4 separate regions of the Homo sapiens genome follow, and regions 1, 2 and 4 are each linked to region 3. Evidence: fine-mapped expression QTL. Tissue or cell type: whole blood. Region 3 holds a variant in brackets; each other region holds the start of a gene. Each region is shown on its reference strand, or each on the opposite one.

Evidence for each region.
Region 1: GATA2 starts here. The variant in region 3 is fine-mapped to the expression of GATA2 in whole blood (TOPMed, PIP above 0.99).
Region 2: RHEX starts here. The variant in region 3 is fine-mapped to the expression of RHEX in whole blood (TOPMed, PIP above 0.99).
Region 4: CNRIP1 starts here. The variant in region 3 is fine-mapped to the expression of CNRIP1 in whole blood (TOPMed, PIP above 0.99).

The regions. Positions count from the first base shown.
Region 1 is chr3:128,491,155-128,496,301 of GRCh38, reverse strand. GATA2 (GATA binding protein 2) reads left to right here and starts at 3,101. Exons shown (of 6, transcript NM_032638.5): 1 at 3,101-3,403. The region is part of intron 2 of GATA2-AS1 (GATA2 antisense RNA 1); the gene reads right to left. RefSeq lists a silencer at 3,302-3,391.
Region 2 is chr1:206,051,047-206,056,193 of GRCh38, reverse strand. RHEX (regulator of hemoglobinization and erythroid cell expansion) reads right to left here and starts at 3,021. Exons shown (of 6, transcript NM_001007544.4): 1 at 2,929-3,021. It overlaps LOC105372857 (a long non-coding RNA gene), which reads left to right. Exons shown (of 3, transcript XR_922473.3): 3 at 1-2,751. RefSeq lists enhancers at 2,906-2,965, 3,386-3,625, 4,989-5,147.
Region 3 is chr19:33,261,450-33,266,596 of GRCh38, reverse strand. No RefSeq gene overlaps it. Among named protein-coding and RNA genes, the nearest start is that of SLC7A10, 38 kb to the right of the region's middle. The variant G/A (reference allele first, on the strand shown) is at 2,955.
Region 4 is chr2:68,317,943-68,323,089 of GRCh38, reverse strand. CNRIP1 (cannabinoid receptor interacting protein 1) reads left to right here and starts at 3,141. Exons shown (of 3, transcript NM_015463.3): 1 at 3,141-3,868. The coding sequence starts at 3,690.

The DNA.
Region 1 (5,147 bases), not on the chromosome of region 3:
GGGCCCTTCTCACGTCCCTCTTCTCGCATTGGCTCTTTGCGCCTCTCTTTGAATCTCTCTATTTTTGTCTTATCTCTCTGTCCTCTCTTATCTCTCTCCTGTCTCTGTCCATGTCTCTGTGGTTATCACCTTCTTTGCTTTTATTCCCATCTTTCTGACCCTTTCTGCCACTTTTTAGTTGTTTATTTCTGTCTGTCTCCAAGTGTCCCCAAGCTCCAGGCCTGTCCCCACCAGTGCCTCTTCCTCATTGTTTTTTTAAAATCTGTCTTTGGGCCTCCCATCTCTTTCCCCACTCCTTGTCTCTCTGGATCTTTCTGTCACTGAATCTCCATTTCTCTTCATCCACCCCACCCTGAGGGCCCCACATCTCCAGGCCTCATACCTCCTGCCCTCTCAAGGCTGTGAACCTGGCCACAGACCAGAGACTGGAAGGCTCCAGCCAGCTCTGGCCTGGCCAGCCCAGCTCCGCCCAGTAGGCAGGAGGCAGGTGGGGTGGGGAGGTGCAAGGCCTGGAACCCCCTTTCCAAGGAAACAAGACAGAAGTAGAAAAGGCCCTGTAGGCACCCAGGCCCTGCTCCTGTGCTTCAGACAAGCTCGCCCATGCCCCTCCCCAGTGAGGCCCAGGGCCTTGGGATCGGGTGGTCCCAATGAGGACACCTCATTAGAGCAGTTATTCAGCATGGCGCTGGCGACAGCAGATAAGCCTTATCAGCTCATCTCCCCTCCCACAGACAGACAGAAAGTGCCCGAGCAAATGGTACCCTAGAGCTCCACTGGCGGCCTGCCCTGCTGGTTAAGGAAGGTCTGGATGGTGTGTGATCCTGCAGGATGCACACCCCGCGTGTCACCCAGGACACACTTTTCTACAGTCCACAGAACAGGGCACTGCTGGCCACAGAAACATGCATTTCAAAGATGTAGTCATATACACAGTTGCCCACAACCCAGATACGCAGACACAAACACCCACCGCAACACACATCAATTCATACATGGAGCTGTACGTAGACATGCAGACACACTCGGATACATCTCCTCCTCCCCACCATCAGTTCAAAGATACAATGATATACACTGATACCTATGCTGTTAAAGACAGATGGACATGCACATAGCCAAATGCATGTTCAAATACACAAACACAAACACACGCCCCAACAGCCATCAATTAATAAAGAGAATTATACATGGATATCCAGACACATGCAACACACCACACACACACACCTACACATACACCAGTTCAAGGACACATGCAGATACCCAGGTACAAACTATTAAAGACACACACAGGCTAGGCGCAGTAGCTCACGCCTATAATCCCAGGACTTTGGGAGGCCGAGGTGGGAGGATTGCTTTAGTCCAGGAGTTTGGGACCAGTCTGGGCAACATAGTGAGACTGTGTTTCCACAAAAATAAAAATAAAAATAATTAGCCAGGCACGGTGGCACATGCCTGTGGTCCCAGATACTCAGGAGGCTGAGGTGGGAGGATGGCTTGAGTCTGGGAGGTTGAGGCTGCAGTAAGCGCTGATTGAACCGCTGCACTTCAGTCTGGGTAACAGATCAAGACCCTGTCTCAAGAAACAAAACAAAACAAAACAACAACAACAACAAAAATACACACAGTAACACATGCCTAGATACATGCACATACACACGCAAACACACACTCCAAAACACACCCATTCATAGACATGCCACACACTGCTACAGACACATGGGCAAACACCTGGAAATCCCCACCCCTCATTACATGAGTCTCTGACATGATGACCCCACAGACACAGAGCCAAAGGGACGCACAACCATTTCCACAGACACACTCTCTTGTGCCAAATTCCAGGGTCATGAAATAGCCACACTGTGACCTACTGCCCAATACACAAACTCTCAGGAACCCACAAGAAGAAATGAACATACTCATACACCCAGTTTTGCAGACACTCCTGTGTGCTCCTAAGTGCACACAGACACACCTGGGCACACAGGACATAGACTCTGAGCCACATGCATAGAACACACACACAATGCAATAGTCACCACCAGATTTGGAGAAAGACCTATGGACAGCAGGGGTCACAAAGACCAGGGGACAGAAACACTCCTCTGGGGCACACCTGGGCACGGGAGCACAGATTTCCCAGTCCTTCCAAGCCCAAGCACTTTCCCTCTGGGCTCAAGGTCCCCAGGCCACTTTCACTCTCCCTGATCTGCTGGAATGGGAATCAGGGGTGGGGGTGGGGGGACGCTGACTGGTTGAATCCCTTAGTAAGAACTTTGGCAGCACAAGGACTGGACTGTCTTTGCCCACAAACCCAGGGGCCTTCTGGGGATGAGGACTCCCACACTCACTTTCTCCCCCCCTCCTGACTCCCACTTCTGTGAACAAGCCCTCTGCACACTTCCTTGCTTCCCCCATTGTGAGAGTCTGCCCCAAGGAGATGGGCCAGGGGGACACCAGACAGTGGACTTCTAAAGTGCTCAGGGGGTCCCCCAGCGTTAGGAACTGGAGGGGGGGTGGGACAGGGAGAGGGGCTGCGCCTGCACTTAGCTAAACAAGCCTGGCAGTGAGGGCGTCCTGAGTGTGAGCCCGAGTGCCGAGTTGCATCTGATTGTATGGCCATGTGTGTCGGTGTGACCCAGGCCGTCTGTCTGAGGATGTCCTCGCGGCCACAGCTGTGTGCACATGTGCAGGGATGTGTGCGTGTCCGTGTGAGCACTCCTGGAAGTGGGTTGAAGACAGAGGAGCGGGCGTCTGTGTACCATTATCAGTGAGTGCGTGTGCTCACAGCTCCTGAGGGTCCCCGGGGAGAGTCTCAGTAAAGACGTGTCCCAAGCTTTCTGAGCAAGCATCCCTGAGGTCAGGGGCGCGCGTGTGCGCTCCGGAGAGGGTGGGAGCGGCCTGGAGTGTGGATGCACAGGGTGTGCGCGCCCTGAGTGCCTAGCGGCCCTTGGCCGGCCAGGCGGCTGGACCTGGTAGGCCGGGTGCAGAGCCCCGGGTACCCTCCTGCCCCCTGCGGCGCTCCCGCCCCCGTCGCCACCCCCTGCCCCCCCGCAAAGTGATGTCGAAATAAAAAGCCGCGTTGCGGCCGGTGGGGGAGAGAGAGGCAGCGTGAGCGCCAGGAAGGTAGCGAGGCCAGCGTCGCCCCGGGACTCGCTGCTCAAGTCTGTCTATTGCCTGCCGCCACATCCATCCTAGCAGGGCCCCGTCGCCCACCAGGCGGACAAAAGCGGTCCGCTGAACACCATGCGGCCGCTCGGCGTGCCGCCCAGGCTCTGCTGGTGAGCGCCGCCACCCCGCGCCCAGGTCCCGCGAGCCCGCCTGCCGCGCACCTCGCCCTGCTCCCAGCTCTACTCCAGGCCCCGTCCGCCCGGGGGCGCCGCCCACCGCGCCTCGCTCGGTGAGTTTCTTCCACTTCCACCTTCCCTGGGCCCGGCCCTTCCCGCCCCCGGCCCGGCCCGCCTGGCACCCGAATCGCTTGGTCCGTTTGCCCTGTGGCCCCTACCTTTGGGGCTCGCCTTGGCCCTGCCAGAGACCGGAAACCCTGGTTATAGGGACTTTAACCAGAGGGAGTATTTGGTTACCTGGGCACAGCAGGCCCGCCTCGGGCCTCTTGTCTTCCCATTTCTCGGAGCCACAGGCCACGAGACCCTGGCATTCCCAGAGCCTCGCAAAGCACCCCCGCCTCCCGGCCCCCGAACTGGGGCCTTTGTCTCGGCCGCCCCCAATCCCCAGGCCACCGCGGCGGATGCGTCCGAGCCGGGCCGCCGAGCGGCGGCTGCACCTGCCGGCTGGTCCCGTGCGCCGGCTTTTCGCGGCTTAACCCAGCTCGCTCCTGCTTGCGCCCCCGCGCGCTGCGCCCCGCAGCCCTTTATCCTGTGTGACTGGGGTGCGTGTGGGGGAGAGCGCCGGGTCTGGAAGTCTCCCCCCGCCCCAAGCCGGAGTCGGAATCCGTTTAGTGGGATTTCAATAAGAATGGGGCCGCCGCGGGCTTGAAGATCTGCCGCCGGTAGGCGTAGACGGCGTTCTGGATCTGTCTGAAAACGGGGCATTTAAAATTATTCTGTGGCGGCCAGGCTTGAACTCCGCGTTGCTCCAACCACGAGGGGAAAGGCCCCGCGTTCAGGGACCCCGTGTGTGGCGAACGCTCCTTTACCGGAAAACAAGGAAGGAAATTCGTTGTTTTGGAAAAAGCCTCCTCTCCCGAGGTCGGGAACATCTGGTGGTGAGCTCCAGGTCTACGCAGGCACCCCGTGCTAGGATTCGTTTATGAGCAGGCAGGATTCGAGAACCAGGTAGGGCCCGTGCGGCAGCCGAGGCGTCTGGGGAGCGTTTCCCAGCCGGGCTGACAAATTGCAGACAAATTGTGCCTAACGAAACGGATTTACCAGTTGTCAGGCCGCCGGCCCCGGCCGCTCCAAATAAACCGTGGCTGTTCGTGGAGGAGGGAGAAGCACGGCCCGATTGTCTCCGGGTCTCAGCAGGGTTCCGCGGGGAGCCTGCCAGGCTTGAAGGTAGGGGTCAGAAGCGATATAGAATCTCGGAGGCGCCTGGGTCCAGGGTGCCGAGACACCTAGGACGTGGGGGCCACAGACTCTACGATTCCCAAAGACACAGAACAGTAATGAGGTGGGAGAGCCTGCACTGATGCCGAGGGAGGGAGCCTTCTGCTTTAAGGGGCTGGAATTGAACCTCAAGGAGCAGGAGGGGCCGTTATAGCAGTAGTCCCCCCCTTGGGAACCCCCCCGGAGGGATGGCTGCTGGCCTGAGATCTAATGCCCCGGCTTTAAGGGAACTTCTGAACCCATCTGCTAAGGCACCCCACTTCCTCCCCGTACCCCTCAAGGTTTATTGCCAGTGTGGGGCTGGGAGGCCGCTGGGTTGCGAATTAAATTTCTCTATGGAAGGTAGTCCCTTAGCAAATGGGTTTCCTTGACACCCCACCCCCAGCCCCACACCGCGGGCCAATTAGCTGCCCATAAGGAAAAGGCGAGAAGAATTAGGTTACAAAGGGAGGGCAAACTTATGGTCCCAAAGGGGCCGCCTCGGATGAGCTAACTTTAAACAAAGGGCTCAGAGGGGGGGGGGGGCTGGACGGCCGGGGAGACCTGGGCATCTCTGTGTCCCCACCTGGCACCCGCGGC
Region 2 (5,147 bases), not on the chromosome of region 3:
GCCCACTAGAATAAACTGAGTCCAATACCTCTACACAGTTATGTTTAACTGGGCTCTCTGACACCGGGAGGAAGGTGGCGGGGTTTAGGTGTTGCAAACTTCAATGGTTATGCGGGGATGTTCACAGAGCAAGCTTTGGTATCTAGCTAGTCTAGCATTCATTAGCTAATGGTGTCCTTTGGTATTTATTAAAATCACCACAGCATAGGGGGACTTTATGTTTAGGTTTTGTCTAAGAGTTAGCTTATCTGCTTCTTGTGCTAACAGGGCTATTGCTACCAGGGACTTTGGACATGGGGGCCAGCGTTTGGAAACCTCATCTAGTTGTTTTGAGAGATAGGCCACTGGCCTTGGCCAGGGCCCTACAGTCTGGGTTAAAACTCCAACTGCCACTTTTTCTCTTTCTGACACATAGAGTGTAAAAGGTTTTGTCAGGTCAGGTAGCCCCAGGGCTGGGGCCGACATGGGTTTTTTCTTTTTTTCAACTCATGAAAAGCTCATTGCTGTTGGGTGTAATAGATGCAGTTTATCTAATCTACATTTTTATTGACTGTCATCTACCAAAATATTGACTTAAATCCTGTAGCTATTTGATTTCGGACTTTAAATTGATCTGGTGTTCCTTGCGGGGCTTCGATTGCATCTAAATAGATGTGAGAGTTGAAAGACCCATAAGGGGCTTCTCTCGCTTTACGATGTCTTATTATTTTTTTTTTCCTTCCTCTGGTTGATGAAATGCCAGGGTGAAAGGGATAGCCAAATAGGCTAAAGCACAAGTGCCACTCTAGTTATTCGGCAGAGTGCCCAATAAAGGTCCACGACAATACCATCACACATCCGCTCGGGGATGAACAAGGGCTGACTGACTGATAAGCTCTTGAAAATTCTTAAGCTCACTGCATCCCTTCAGGTCTCCAAGGAATGCTAAGTCTCCTCCCTGCCATGAGAGACATGAAGTGAACTTAGTGTTGGGAGACGGAAGCTGGACGGCCCTCAGGGGCTGACCCGCAGGGACTTTGGGATATAGCAGAGAGAGCTTGGCATGACTTATTACTCCAAGCTGTAGAAACCTGGAAAATAGCTACCCTGCAGCCCATGCCTGGTCAACTGGAGGACCACCTTAGTGGAAGGGGGACAATCAGGGCCTCTGGCCTGCCATGTGCACAAGCATAACAATTGCATTTGTTTAAAGTGCAGATGGAATATTTGATCCATTTCAGCCAGGCACTTGCATCTTGGCGTGCTGTCTTAATTGCCAAAGTTTGTTTTAAGTCTTTAACTTTTATGATCCTCTAGTAAAATGAATGTTTCCTTTAGCACCAATTTTTATTAGTTTTTAGACCAAAGAAAGCTAAACACCATTTTATATTTAATAATGTTTCTTGTATGATTTTTATACCAGATAAGCTAAATTTTACCTTTATATTAGTGTGTTATTAATTTTAAACTGAATTTTAATAAAACCTTGTAGACATATTTATCCAATTTTTCATGTTTGACCATAAGGTAAGATTTTATAGACTCTTTTTAACCTTTTATAATTTTTGTTAAAGAGCAGGTTGATGCTTTAAGAAAAACCTGTGGCATTTTTTACTTTAATGTCCAGTTCACAGAAAAACTGGATGATACCTTTTTAACTTTAGCTAATATGTTTACACACAGAATTTTCTTTATAATTAACGTTTTAAAACTTGCTTAAACTTTTAAAACAATAATTGTTTTTAACCTTTTAATGTAGGTAAAAATCCACATTCTTATGCCCCTTTATAATCTTTTTACCAAAGGTATGTTTTACTTTTCTTATACACCTTGCACATAAACTGTTTTTTTAATAGTACTCAGGAGGCCTTATTACTTTTAAATTATACAACATTTTTTGCATAAATTTTTTTATAACATTTTTTCTTTCACGACTTTTGCCGACAATTCTTCAATGTGTCTCAACTTTCTGACTTATTACAAACATTTTTTTTCTTTAAACACCAGTTAGTTTATTTCAGGACAAGAATTTACCATATAACACTCTTTTTACATAAATTCTGTCTCCCCCCACTTTTTTTTTTTTTTGAAGATAACCATTCCTTTTTTTTTTTTTTAAAGCAAACTTTCTTTATGCCTTTGGACTAGACTGTCTAAGGCCACAAGATTAGAAGTTACCATAATACATGTTACACTGTTAACTTTAAGCAAACTTCACTTTTGTTGAAAACCTTGTAAGTTTGGGATTTCAATTATCCTTTGCTATTAAGACCTTGTTTAGTCTAAATTAACTTAGAATTGGTATAGATGGCCTTTTTTTCTCTCTACTGGTCTTTCCTTGCCTCTGCCAGCCGCTTATGCTGCTGTTCTCTTAACTACGTTGGCGGGGCAAGGGGGTATAAAAGCAGCTGTAACTTTCTATGTATGGAAACTGGTCTGGGTGCCTTGGCTTACGGGTTACCTTGTGTCATACCTTTGAAACAAGGGACCTGTCCAGGCTTCCTTCTGATGGCCAACCCACCTCTAATGCTGGCCAGTCTATTTCACACAAAGTTCTAAGTTTTCCTGGTGTCACAGTAACACTGTAATCTCCCTTAAATTCTTTCTTGAATTTTTTTTTAACATAGTTCCTAGTGGGGTGGGCTTATTTGTACCTGACCCATGCTTCTTCGAGACAAAACACCACACCCACACCACACACATGCCACAAACAAAAAAACAGGTAAAAAGGGCATACACACTCTTGCAGTTTACACCAAACCAAAATCAAAACCAAAATCAGAGTATCCAGAAATCCAAGCCAGGTCAAAACCAAAACCAAAACCAAAGTATCACACAATCTAAGTCAAGTCAAAACCAGAACAGAAGTGCCAATGCAGGCATGTCGTGGGTGATCAGGCCACACTTCCACCTAGATGGAGTGGGGCAAGTTCCAAAGACTAGTCTTACCAAGTTTCAGATGTCCGGACTCCAAGTGCCAGTTCCTTCCCGGTGTTCAGCCACTGTGTTAATCCTCCACAGGGAACTGCTACACGCTGCTCTGGTGAGGCATTCCACCGGGGCAATTTCCTACCCGGGAGTGCTCTTTGGATCGCGTCACTCGGGCTGGCCGGAGTCCGCCTCAGGGATGCTCCACAGGGGAGGCCTAAGCCGCCTAAGGGGCTGCCTCGGCTGTCCATCAGTTACCTCGTTTCCTGGTCAGGGAACCAAGAAATGTAGCAGGACGAGCCGCAGACAAAACCCCTCAGACACCAAATTGTAGAAGGAAGGGCTTTATTCAGCTGGGAGCATCAGCAGGCTACTGCCTTAAAATCCGAGCTCCCCGAATGCACAATTTCCGTCCCTTTTAAGGGCTCACAATACTAAAGATTTCACATGAAAGGGTCATGATTGATTTGAGCAAGCAGGCGGTATGTGACAGGGGCTGCATGCACCGGTGGTCAGAGAGAAACAGAACAGGGCAGGGAGTTTCACAATGTTCTTCTATACAATGTCTGGAATCTATGAATAACATCAGTTTCTAAGTTATGAGTTGATTTTTAACTACTGGGTTTAGGCCAGGCAGGCCCAGGCCTGGTTTCGGGCCTGGCGCCGGACTGCCTGTCTTTGGTTTTACTTCCTTGTTGTTTTTCCTTAAAACAGGTACTGAGTATAAAACAATATAAAACAATATGAGAGGGTCTCTCTCTTCCCTCACAGTGACCTGGGTCTCAGACACTTCCTAACTGTGATCTTAGGACAAACACTTAGCTTTTCTGAGCCTCATCTGTGAAACAGACAGAATATGAATGCCTACCTCATGGAGTTGTTTAAGAACTCAGTGATCAGACTATTATTCAACAGTAATAACGAGCCAGGCCCAGTGGCTCACGCCTATAATCTCAGCACTTTGGGAAGTCAAGGCAGGAGGACCGCCTGAGCTCAAGAGTTTGAGACCAGCCTGGGCAATATAGCTAGACCTTGTCTCTACTTTAAAAAAAAAAAATCCGAAAATTAGCTGGGTGTGCTACTGCATGCCTGTAGTCCCAGCTCCTTGAGAGGCTGAGATAGGAGAATCACTTAAGCTAGGGAAGTCGAGGCTGCAGTGAGCCATGATCACACCATTGTACTCTAGCCTGGGTGACAGAGCAAGACCCTGTCACAAAAACAAACAAAGAAACAGAAGACAGGAATAACCACCATTTGTATTGTTCTAGTTTTCAGTTGGTCTTACCTGAGCAGAGTAATTGGGTGAGATTGTTCATGGAGGCATTGCTGGCTCTCTAGTCCTGGAACCTACAGTTGGTCCAATTCATTATGCCAAAGGGTCCGTCTAGGAGGTTCTTGTTCCAAGTATTGAGATTCCCGAGAGAAGTAGGTCCCCTTAGATAGAAGCAGAGTTTCTCAGAGGTATTTAGCAGCAGCTGGTGGACACAGGACTCAGGGAGCTGGCCCCCCTCTTCCCTTCCATGTCTTTCATTCCTGCATGGGAACCTGTCAGATGGGGAGATTGTTAAAATCTCACCACTGGAGGGGAGGGCCTCAAAGGCCATGGAGACAGCACCTCTCTCTTAGTGAAGGCATCTTCAGATAGAATTCAGCACAAATTCAAAGGTGGCTCCCCAGACCCTATCTGTCACATCGCCCTCTCATCTATTAGTATCTGAAGTCACCTTGATCATTTATTTGTTTACTTGATTATTGTCAGCCTCTCATCACATGAATGTGAGCTTCATAAGAACAGAGACCTTATCTGTTTTGGCCAACATTTCACCCCCAGTGTCTAGAAAGTGCCTCATGCAATGAATAGGTCCAATACATATTTCTTCAATAAATGAATGAATGAATGAATGCCAAAGACTCCTTCATAAAAGCCAGGGTCAACTGACCTCTGCCAGAATTTTGGAGAGCCTACACCACAGACTTTTGAACCTCTTAGCTGATGACAAATCTTTAGCCTTCGAAGCGGAAATTGATTTGAAAGAGCCCAAAGTACTCCGGTAAAGTAGGTGATGTTGAACTGGGTAATGTCAATTTCAGAAAAAGAGGACACGTGCCTGTGAAACACCAAGAGCAGTGTCCTGGGGTTGGGGAGGACACCTGCCTGGGTGTGGGTGGCCAAGGGGAAGAAGGAAGAGAAAGAGCAGGGGAAGATGCTGTCCCACAGCCACCACCACAGGTGTTCACCG
Region 3 (5,147 bases):
ATAGTGAGACCCCATCTCTATAAAAAGTTAGCCAGGCATGGTGGTGCATGCCCGTAGTCCCAGCTACACAGGAGGCTGGGGCGGGAGGATCACTGGAGCCCAGGAGTTTGAGGCTGCAGTGAGCTGTGTTCGTGCCACTGCACTCCAGCCTGGGCAACAAAGCAAGACCCTATAATTAATAAATAAATAAATAAATAAATAAATAAATAAATAAATGGAAAAAGAAAACTGGAAATCAGAATAGAAGGACCCAGAAGCTGCCAGGGCCACCTCAGAAAGAATTCTGGAACACTGTTGCCTTGGGAAGATAACATCTGGCTGATGGAAGGTCAGAGGCAGGTTACCAGGGAAAGACTCCTGTTTGAAAAGAAGGTCACCGAGGCATCCCTCGTGTCTTCCCACTGCATTTGGTGCACAGCACATGACTCTGGTTCTCTCTCATTCAGGGCCTGGTTATAGCAGAAAGTCTGGCTCTCACTGAGCAAGGACCCAGATGGGGACACTCAGAGAGGTGGGAAAGAATCTCCCCCACCCCGCCAAGGAGGGATGCAGCTGTGCTGTAAGTGATGGTTAAAGCCATCTTTAAGAGAGGCAGGGCGCCATGGCTCACTCTTCTAATACCAGTGCTTTAAGAGGCTGAGGCAGGAGAATTGCTTAAGGCCAGGACTTTGAGACTAGCCTGGGCAACACAGCCATCTCTACAAAAAATACAGAAATTGGCTGGGCATGGTGGTGCCCACCTGTAGTCTCAGCTACTCAGGAGGCTGAGGTGGGAGGATCACTTGAGCCCGGCAGTTTGCAGCTGCGGTGAGCTATGATCGCACCCCAGCACTCCAGCCTGGGAGACAGAGTGAGACACTGTCTCTAAAAAGAAAGAGGGAAGAGAGAAGATGCCCGTAGCTGCTTTAGGTGACAAACGGCCTTGAAGCCGTGAAGGCCCACTCCCTTCCACAGGGAATGCAGCCCCATCTCCGCAAGCCAGTCTCTGAGGCCACCCCTTCTTGCTTCCTCCGCCAGATACCCTGCCCAGCCCCCTCCCCCAAAATGAAGCCAGGTGGGGACCCTCTGTGCTGCTGGCCTCCAGGCCCTGCCCTGCTGCCCCTGCCTTCAGCCCCTACCACCCACACCACCCTGAAACCCTTCCTCTCCCTGGCCACTGTACCTCTCCCAGACCGGCGGTTTGCCTCCAGCTGGAGCCTCCTGGAGGCTGGGAGAGAACCCCTCGCCTGGGTTAACTTTAGTGGTGATTCTAGAAGCAGGACGCTGCTGAGGAAAAGGCCAAACTGTAGCTTTGTCCGCTCCACCCCAAGCCTTTGCCTGAGCTGGAACTTTCCTCTAACAAGCCCTGTAAGAGGAGCTTCACACCATGCTCCCTGTGTGAACCATGGTACCTGTGAGTATTGGCAATGATATTATGCCAATGTGCTATTATGTGCATTTAGCATAAAAGCCACTTGTAAGTAGTCACGTGGCAAGACCACGGCTGGGGCCCAGAGAATCCTGCTGGGGGCCCATAACATGGGATTGGCCCCCTGGAGCTAAGGCCAGGGCTGCAGTGCAGGAGGCCCACACCCGCAGGGGATCCTGCCCGAGGGGCAGGGCTGGATGAGAGGCAGTGAGCCCAGAGCATAGACAGAAGACAGTGGGCGTGTGTGTGTCTTGGTCACTGCGTGCGTCTCTAGGTAACTTTGGTTTGCACGTTTGTGAGGTTGAGCGTCTGTCAATGTGAGTTTCCGTGCATGGCTGGTGACTGCATTTGTGTGTCTGTGCATGGGCCTGGGTACATCCGTGTCTCTCGGTGTGTTTATGGATCTGTTCATTCAATCACTGCCTGGTGCGGCCAGGCCCTAGACAGACTGGAGGGCTCGGTCCCTGCCCCATCAGGCCCACAGTCTGGCAGGAGGTGAGCAGGAAGTAGGAATTACACCCATAATCCCTAGGCAGGATGGTGACAGGGGGAGCTCACGCCTCGAGGGTGGAAGCCCCGAGACAAGGGACCTGCTGCAGCTTGGCACTCGGGGACCCTGGATGCTTTCATGAAGGACAGGAAAGCCGAGTGCCATAGGAGGCATGGGAGTTGTCATGGGGAGGAGAGTTTTCCAGGCAGAGGGGAGAGCATTTGCAAAAGCCGGGGCACTGAGGAGGGGTCGAGGCAGAACTGCAGGTGCTAGGAAGCCAAGGGGTGTGGGAGGTGAGGGCAGGAAGGACAGGAGCTAGACACGCAAGCCTGGAGGCCACCATGATAATGGTGGCTGCTTCCTAGAACCGTGGGAAGGTGAAGTTCGGAAAGCAGCCCGATCATGTGGTCATTTAATAATACGACCATTCTGGGCCGGGCACGGTGGCTCACGCCTGTAATCCCAGCACTTTGGGAGGCCAAGGCGGGCAGATCACGAGGTCAGGAGATCGAGACCATCCCGGCTAACACAGTGAAACCCCATCTCCACTAAAAATACAAAAAATTAGCCGGGGGTGGTGGCGGGCACCTGTAGTCCCAGCTACTCGGGAGGCTGAGGCAGGAGAATGGCGTGAACCTGGGAGGCGGAGCTTGCAGTGAGCTGACACTGCACCACTGCACTCCAGCCTGGGCGACAGAGCAAGACTCCATCTCAAAAAAATAAAATAAAATAAAATAATAATAATAATATGGCCACTCTGTTGGCTAAGAGCCTGGATGAGGCCAGAGCTGCCATCCCATGAAGAGAGATGGTGGCTGGGGACGTGGGGCGGCAGGGGAAGACGTGGACAGGTGCGGGCATGCAGAGGCAATGGAAGGGTGACAGGCAAGGCCTGGCGACGGCTCAGGTGTCAAGGGCCAGGAGGTGTACATGCTGTGTGTGCACACGTGTGCACGTGAGCCTGTACAAACGCCTGCCAGGAGCTCAGGCCAGGCCCTCTCTCCTCTCCCTCTCCCCTCTCCAATCTCTTGCCCGTGTCCCCCACAGCCTCGCCGC[G/A]GACATGACAGTGACGGTAAGAAGGACTCAGTGTTGCAACTGCATTTCCTCTCGAACCCAGGGCCGCCAGAGATTAGCTGAGAGCCCCGTGTGCACTGGGCGATAACACCCCCACCACTCCCCCCGCTTCCTAATCTCTGATTCATTTCCAACTGATAACAGCATGAGGGCCCATGGGCGACGAAGAAACACCCCAGTGGGTCCTACCAAGGCCACTGTCAAGCCACGTGCAGGGACTCCGGGGAGCAGAGACAGGGAGGGCGAAGACCAGGGGTGATTGCAGAGGCAGAGACAGAGAGAGGAAGAAAGAGAATGAGAAGAGAGAGAGAAAATGAAAATGGGGAGAGAATGAGAGAGGGGGAGAAAGAGAGGGAGGGGAGGGCAGCGGGAATGGTCGACGGGTGCAAAAATATGGTTAGGTAGAATGACTAAGATCCAGGATTGATGCATGCAGGCCTTAATACCCAGGTGATGGGTTGATCTGTGCAGCAAACCACCATGGCACGCGTTGACCTATGTAACAAATCTGCACGTCCTGCACATGTATCCCAGAACTTAAAATAATTTTTTTAAAAAAAAGATTCAGTATTTAATAGCACAACAGGGTGATGACAGTCACCAAGAATTTACTGTACATTTAAAAATAATTAAAAGAGCATGATGAGAATGTTTGTAACACAGAGAAAAGATAAATGCTTGAGGGACGGAGACCCCATTAACCCTGATGGATCATGACACATTGCATGCCTGTATTAAAGTATGTCATGTACCCCGTAGATATATGCACCTGCTATGGACCCATACAAATAAAATAAAAAGAAAGAGGAAAGGAAAGAGAATGAAAATGAGAGACAGACAGAGAGAGAGTGAGGATAAGGGGGAGATGGAGACAGGCGGAGAGAGACAGAGAGACACAAACCCCCCAGGTCAGGGCAGGGTGACGAGGAAGAGAGAGGAAACAAGGACAGTGGTGGAGGGACAGACTGACAAATGTGTGCAGATACAGAGAGGGGCTGGGGGGTCCTGGGGGCTAGAAGGACTTACTAAAGTGATAGAGAAACAGAAAAACAGGCCAGGCACAGTGGCTCATGCCTGTAATCCCAGCACTTTGGGAGGCTGAGGCAGGCAGATTACTTGAGGTCAGGAGTTCAAGACCAGCCTGGTCAACATGGCAAAACCCCATCTCTACTAAAAATACAAAATTAGCCAGGCGTGGTGGCGCACACCTGTAATCCCAGCTACTCGGGAGGCTGAGGCAGGAGAATCGCTTGAGCCCAAGAGGTGGAGGTTGCAGTGAGCCAAGATCGTGCCACTGCACTCCAGCCTGGGCAACAGAGTGAGATTTTGTCTCAAAATAAGAAACAGAAAAACAGAGAGAAGGGACTGAGTGAGAGCAAGAAAGGGAAGAGGTGACCCAAGGTCAGGAGACAGAGGGAGTGAAAAGGAGAGAGCAAGACGGTGAGTGGTGGGGTGCGAGGCTGGATGGGCCCTCCCTGGCCCTGCCCATACTGCCTAGACACCATGGGTTAGGGCAGGACAATGATTTTACTGGCTCGACCCCTGCCAGGTACAGGCCTCAGCTGGGGCAGGGTGGCAGGGACAGCACACACCCCTGACCAGTCCAGAGAGCCCCAACCCTCAGGTGGGGCAGGCAGGGCTGTGGGCTGCACAGAGCTGAGCGGGGCGGATGGAGCCATGCTCCTTGTCCATGGACTCGGCCAGAGCCAAGGAGACAGAGCAACCCATCGGGTCTATGTGGATCCTGACGGGGTCTGGCAGGGCTGGACAGTCAAGGTTCGGGGGTCTGGGCTCAACCCCAGGGCTGTGATGGCGTGGCAGCCATCTGTGCTTTCCCAGAGCAGGCAGGAAGTGCCTGCAGGGAGCTGGAACCGCAGTGCTGGTGCTCAGGGCTGGGACAGGAGGGAGCCGGTTTCCCTCCACTCCCCTCCCCAACCGAGCACTCCCCTGGGTTCACAGTCTGGGTCATGTGGTGATGCTGAGAGTTTAGTGGAAGAGGAAATGGGAGCTCCAGGAACTACAGAGGCCCGGCCACCTCCCTTGCTCCTAAGCCCCTGCACCAGATCCCCCCTAAGTATAGAAGAGGGGTACAGACAGCTGCCCACCAGAGGGGCGCCAGGGCCTGGGAAGGATCTCACAGGCTCCTGGGCTCAGGCCTTCCTTTGGGGATGAAGA
Region 4 (5,147 bases), not on the chromosome of region 3:
AACGACCTCCCTCAAGCCCCTTTTACAAGGGTACTACTAATCCCATTCACGTGGGCAGAAGAGCCCTTATGACCTAATCACCTCCAAAAGAACCCACTTCTTAATACTATTGCTTTGTGGATTCGGTTTCAACATAGCCATTTTGGGGGAACACAAGCAGCTGGGAGGCTGAGGCAGGAGAATCGTTTGAACCATAGCATGTGATTCCTCTGAATGACAACTAAGTCCATCGTTCACTTGGGCTCAATTTCACAGTTTTCAAAAGAATGATAATAAGCATTGTCCATTAGACAGACAATGTTTAAGATCACCAATCTGAGGTAATAATTAAAGAATCTACAATAAGACTGAAAGCACTAGATACCTTAAAAATATATAGCAAGAAATGAATTAATGCAGGAAAAAAAAGCCAAATACCGCATGTTCTCATTTTTAGTGGGTGCTAACCATTGGGTACCCATGGACATAAAACAGTTTTTCAACCCTTACTTGTCTCCCTCCCTCCCTGGCTAGTAGTCTTCATTCCATTGGTAACAATAGACACTGAGGACTTGGATGATGGGATCATTTCTACTCCAAACCTCAGCATCATGCAATACGCTCCAGTAACAAACCTGAATCTAAACTAAAAGTTGCTACATATTCAGCAAGTATATTTTTAAATAAAAATAGTTACAATGTATTGAGTGTCTCTATGGGCCTGATATTCTTGCATAGTTTACACAATTTCATTTGGTTCTATATGCATCATCTATGTCACCATCATCATTTTACAAATGAAGAAACTGGGGCTCCAAGAGACTAAAGCAGCTTTGCTCAAGGTCACTCAGTTTGTAATCCACAGATCTGGCAACACAAACACAGATCCATCAGACTCCATATTCATATTCTTTGCACATATGTATCAGTGATGATAAATTTTCCAATTACTTTTACATTTATTAATTTCATTTTAAGACATTACATTGTATGGTCCTGAAAATGCTATTCCTAATGGATATTGCCCAGCATTAGTAACACCTCGTATTTGAAAAGTAATTTATTTTTTTCAAACAATTTCCATTTCCTCATTCAATTCTCACAATGTTGGGAAGGAGGTATTTTAATCCTCATTTTACAAAGATGAAACATAAAGATGTTAAGTTATTTGCATAACGAAACTAAAAAGTGGCAGAGTTAGGTTTTTTTTATTTTATTTATTTATGAGATGGCAGTCTTACTATTTTGTCCATACTGGCCTCAAACTCGTCGGCTTAAGTGATCTTCCCACCTTAGCCTCCCAAGTAGTGGGGACTGCAAGAGTGCACTACCTAGCCAGGCTAGAACCAGAGTTTTTGTTTTTGTTTTTGTGTGGGTTTTTTTTTTTTTTTTCAGATGGAGTCTCACTTTGTTGCCCAGACTGGAGTGCAGTGGCATGATCTCGGCTCACTATAAGCTCTGCCTCCCCAGCTCAAGCGATTCTCATGCCTCAGCCTCCCAAGTAGCTGGGACTACAGGCATGCGCCACCACGCCTGGCTAATTTTTTGTATTTTTAGTAGAGACAGGTTTTGCCATTTTGGCGAGGCTGGTCTTGAACTCCTGGCCTCAAATGATCTGCCCTCCTTGGTCTCCCAAAGTGCTGGGATTCCAGGCATGAGCCACCATGCCGGCCTTAGAACCAGGTTTTAAAATGGAGTCATCATCCTCCAGGTCCAATGCTCTTTTTGATACACAGGTGGAAGTTGGCTTGAGATTGTGGGGTTGCTAAACAAAAGGTTGAGGAAAAAAGGCAAAATTTCCAAAAAGGCTTTTAAATGACCCCAAAAAGATACTCACCCTCTTTCCACTACTCATAAACCATAATAACCAACATTAAGTTTACTGTGTAACTCTCTCATTCTTTTAAAAGAGCTAATACAAACATACACATTTATATTCTTTTTAAATTTTCATTTTTCTAAAACACTAGAGATGCTACTTGCAATTAGATTTCTTTTCATCATTCCAGGTAAATCGCAAGGATCTAATTAATTTTAAAGATGTGAAAGAATTTACATATGGACATGATTAAGACCACAACCGTAAGTCAATTCAACAACGATTTCTGGAGCACCTACTATGTGTCAGGCACTATTTTGGCATGCTGGGGAAACAGCAACAAACAAAACAGACAAAATGCTCGCCCTCAGGCTTTGTTTCCCAGCCATCCCACTTTTATCATTAACAGTTTTTGCCTGTGTGTTTGCCAATGCAACCTATATTTCATTATTTTGATAGTTGTGTAACGTTCTATAGTGTGGGTATATAAGAATTTATTCAGCCATTTATTTATTGGTTAACATTTCATTTAGGTTTTATTTTTATTTTTGCAACCAATGTTGCAATAAACACCCATATTACATATATATTATATGTATAGCTTATTATTTCTTAAAAAAGAGCAGTCTAACTTGGGTAAACAAAAACTGCCAAGGAAACGCATCCCTACCCATTTGTTCTCACTAGCCCACTTCATTTCCCAGGTGTGCTCCCTGGCTCTGGTACTATCCATCTGGGTGGTGCTGAAGCAGGTGCTCTCTCTGCTCCGGGAAGCCATTCCCAGTATAGTCCTCACCCCCTGAGTCTCCCCTCGCTTCCAAAAGTCAGCTGTCTACCGACCTCTGCCACGAAAACTGTCTAATCACGCTTAATATGCAAATCTAAACTCTGCGGTGTCGCATATGGCCCCCTGCCAATAATCCTTTGACCCATCCCACCTCTTGGCCATTTTGTCACCAGAATGCCTTAGGCTCATGTCAGTTGCCTTTTACAGGGTTAATAGCTCACCCTTCAAAATCTGTGTAAATATATGTGATTCATTACATATATTTATGTATGTGTCATTTTTGGGACGAGCATACGTATAATGGAAATGTACACCCACAAGAAGATGTAGCTCCTTGAATATGGTTATTTTCTTCCTCTTGCATCCATTCCTCATCCAGCGTGGCTCCATCACGTGGAATTGCGCCTTTCCTCGGCCATTTCCCCTAAGCTTTGGAAAGACTCATATTTCCTGAAATTTAAATCACCGGCTAGCGGTTTCCTGTCCCCCCTTCCCGCCTCCCTTTACCCCCCCTCAGCCTCCTCCCGCCTGGCTGGCGCCGGATCCGCGAGCAGCAGTGTCCACCTCACGTAGCTGGCCGAGGCGGTATCCAGATTCCGGGGGTCTCGCTCCTTGGCATAGTGGTCGCTTAACTCCAGCGCCTTCCCAGTGCCTCCCAAACCTCTCCTCCTCCTGCCCGGGGCTGTTCTAGGAGGAGCCTAAATGTCCGCTTCCCCAGCTGAAGGGGATTGTGGTGCGTAAACAGGATTAACTCCCTCGCCCCCAGCTGCGCGGATCTGCGCGGCGGCCTGCGGGCCAGAGCGAGCCTTCGGGTGCGTGGAGGGCGCAGCACTGGAGCGGGGGATGGGGAAGCGCGCGGCCTTGGAGCCGTCTCTTGGGCCCGCTTCCTCGCCGAGTGGGGAGGGGGGCCACAGCCTAAGGAGCTGCTCCTCAAAAGCCCGGGCGGACGGCGGCGACGGCGCGGGTTCCTAGCGGCAGCCTCAGCTCCACCACCTCCCTCACCCTCCCCGCGCTTCCTCTCCGCCCCTCGCGCTCCAGCCACTCGGCCGCAGCCGGCGCTGTCCTCCGCCCCCCGGAGCCGCCGCGCCAGACCCTCGCCCAGACATGGGGGACCTGCCGGGCCTCGTGCGCCTCTCCATCGCGCTGCGCATCCAGCCTAATGACGGCCCGGTCTTTTACAAGGTGGACGGGCAGCGCTTCGGCCAGAACCGCACCATCAAGCTGCTCACCGGCTCCTCCTACAAGGTTGAGGTGAAGATTAAACCCAGCACGCTGCAGGTCGAGTGAGTGCGGGGCGCCTGGTGGCAGCAGGGTCCCCCATGGGGTACAGGCAGAGGACTGAGGCCCCCAGGACAGCCCGAGCCTCTCAAGGGCCTCTGGCCTCGCGCCGCTCCCAGCGGGCCCGGGGGTTGGAGGAAGAGGTCACTCCCTGTCCGCCTTCGTCCCCTTCCTTCCCTTTGGCTTGTATTCCTCCATTCTCGCTTCCCTCCACCCATCGCAGTGACCTCAGTGGGTTCTTTAAAATCAGTGACAAGAAGCCAGGGTTTTTGCTTGTCTGTTTCTTATAAATTTCTCCTGCCTTCTGTCCAGCCTTGGGCGCGGAACCGCAGGCGGTCGGGGTGGAGCAGATGGGAGAGGTCCGCAGGGTTCAGCCACCGCAATCCCAGCCCTCCTGCGCGCGGTCCAGGCGGCCCACAGGGTCTGCCCGCAAGGCTGAAGGAGGGAGAAAGGAGGAATGAGGTGGAAAGGCAGGGGAGGGGTGATTACTGGGGCTCCCTGAGGGATGCTCCCCACTCCCTTCGCCATTCAGTGGCTGGGACCCTGGGGTGGAGCAGCAGACACTAGTAAGAGAGCGGCCGCCCCTTCTCTGGCCTAGTTTCACGGTTTTCCATGCCGTATGCTGTTCTTTTTCTCCTGAGTTTTCTGTTCAGGCTGGTGATGGTGCCTGGGATTAGCAACATCCCCACAGCAAGAGGATGTTTTTTGGTTTATCCATGGCAGGGACGATTTCTTGCCAGCGACCGCTGGATAATGCACCCAGTAGACCTCTGGCGGGAAAGTGTGTGGGAGCATGCAGTAGCCTACCCGGAAGAACTGCGGGTGGAGCCCCTTTACCTCTCGTTTCTACCTACCAAAGTCTAGTCTGCAGAGAGAAAATAAACCAGCATTTATTGTATCTACTACATATGGTGGGCATTATTGCGGGGGTGGAAGGACTTTGAATTCATCAGATACTACTTATAGCTTACGTTTTAATTCAGTAAACTTGTATTAGCCTTCCAAGGTGCAAGGACCTAGAACCAAATCTGGATGGTTTCTGGTACTCCTGATTCATCTATTTGTCAGCATCCCCCACAGCTCCATGCACCCTTTATTCTCACATTTCCCAGTGTTCTGTGCACCTGGATATAATCCAGGCTTTTCCTTTCCCTTCTTTCCTGCCAACCTTATCCCCGGAGTTATCTGTTAATATATTTCTTTTTTTTTTTTTTAGAGTATTCCTCTAGTGTTCAAACTAATCTAAAAGTTAATTTGTTAGGAATAAAACTATTTTTTCTGGTT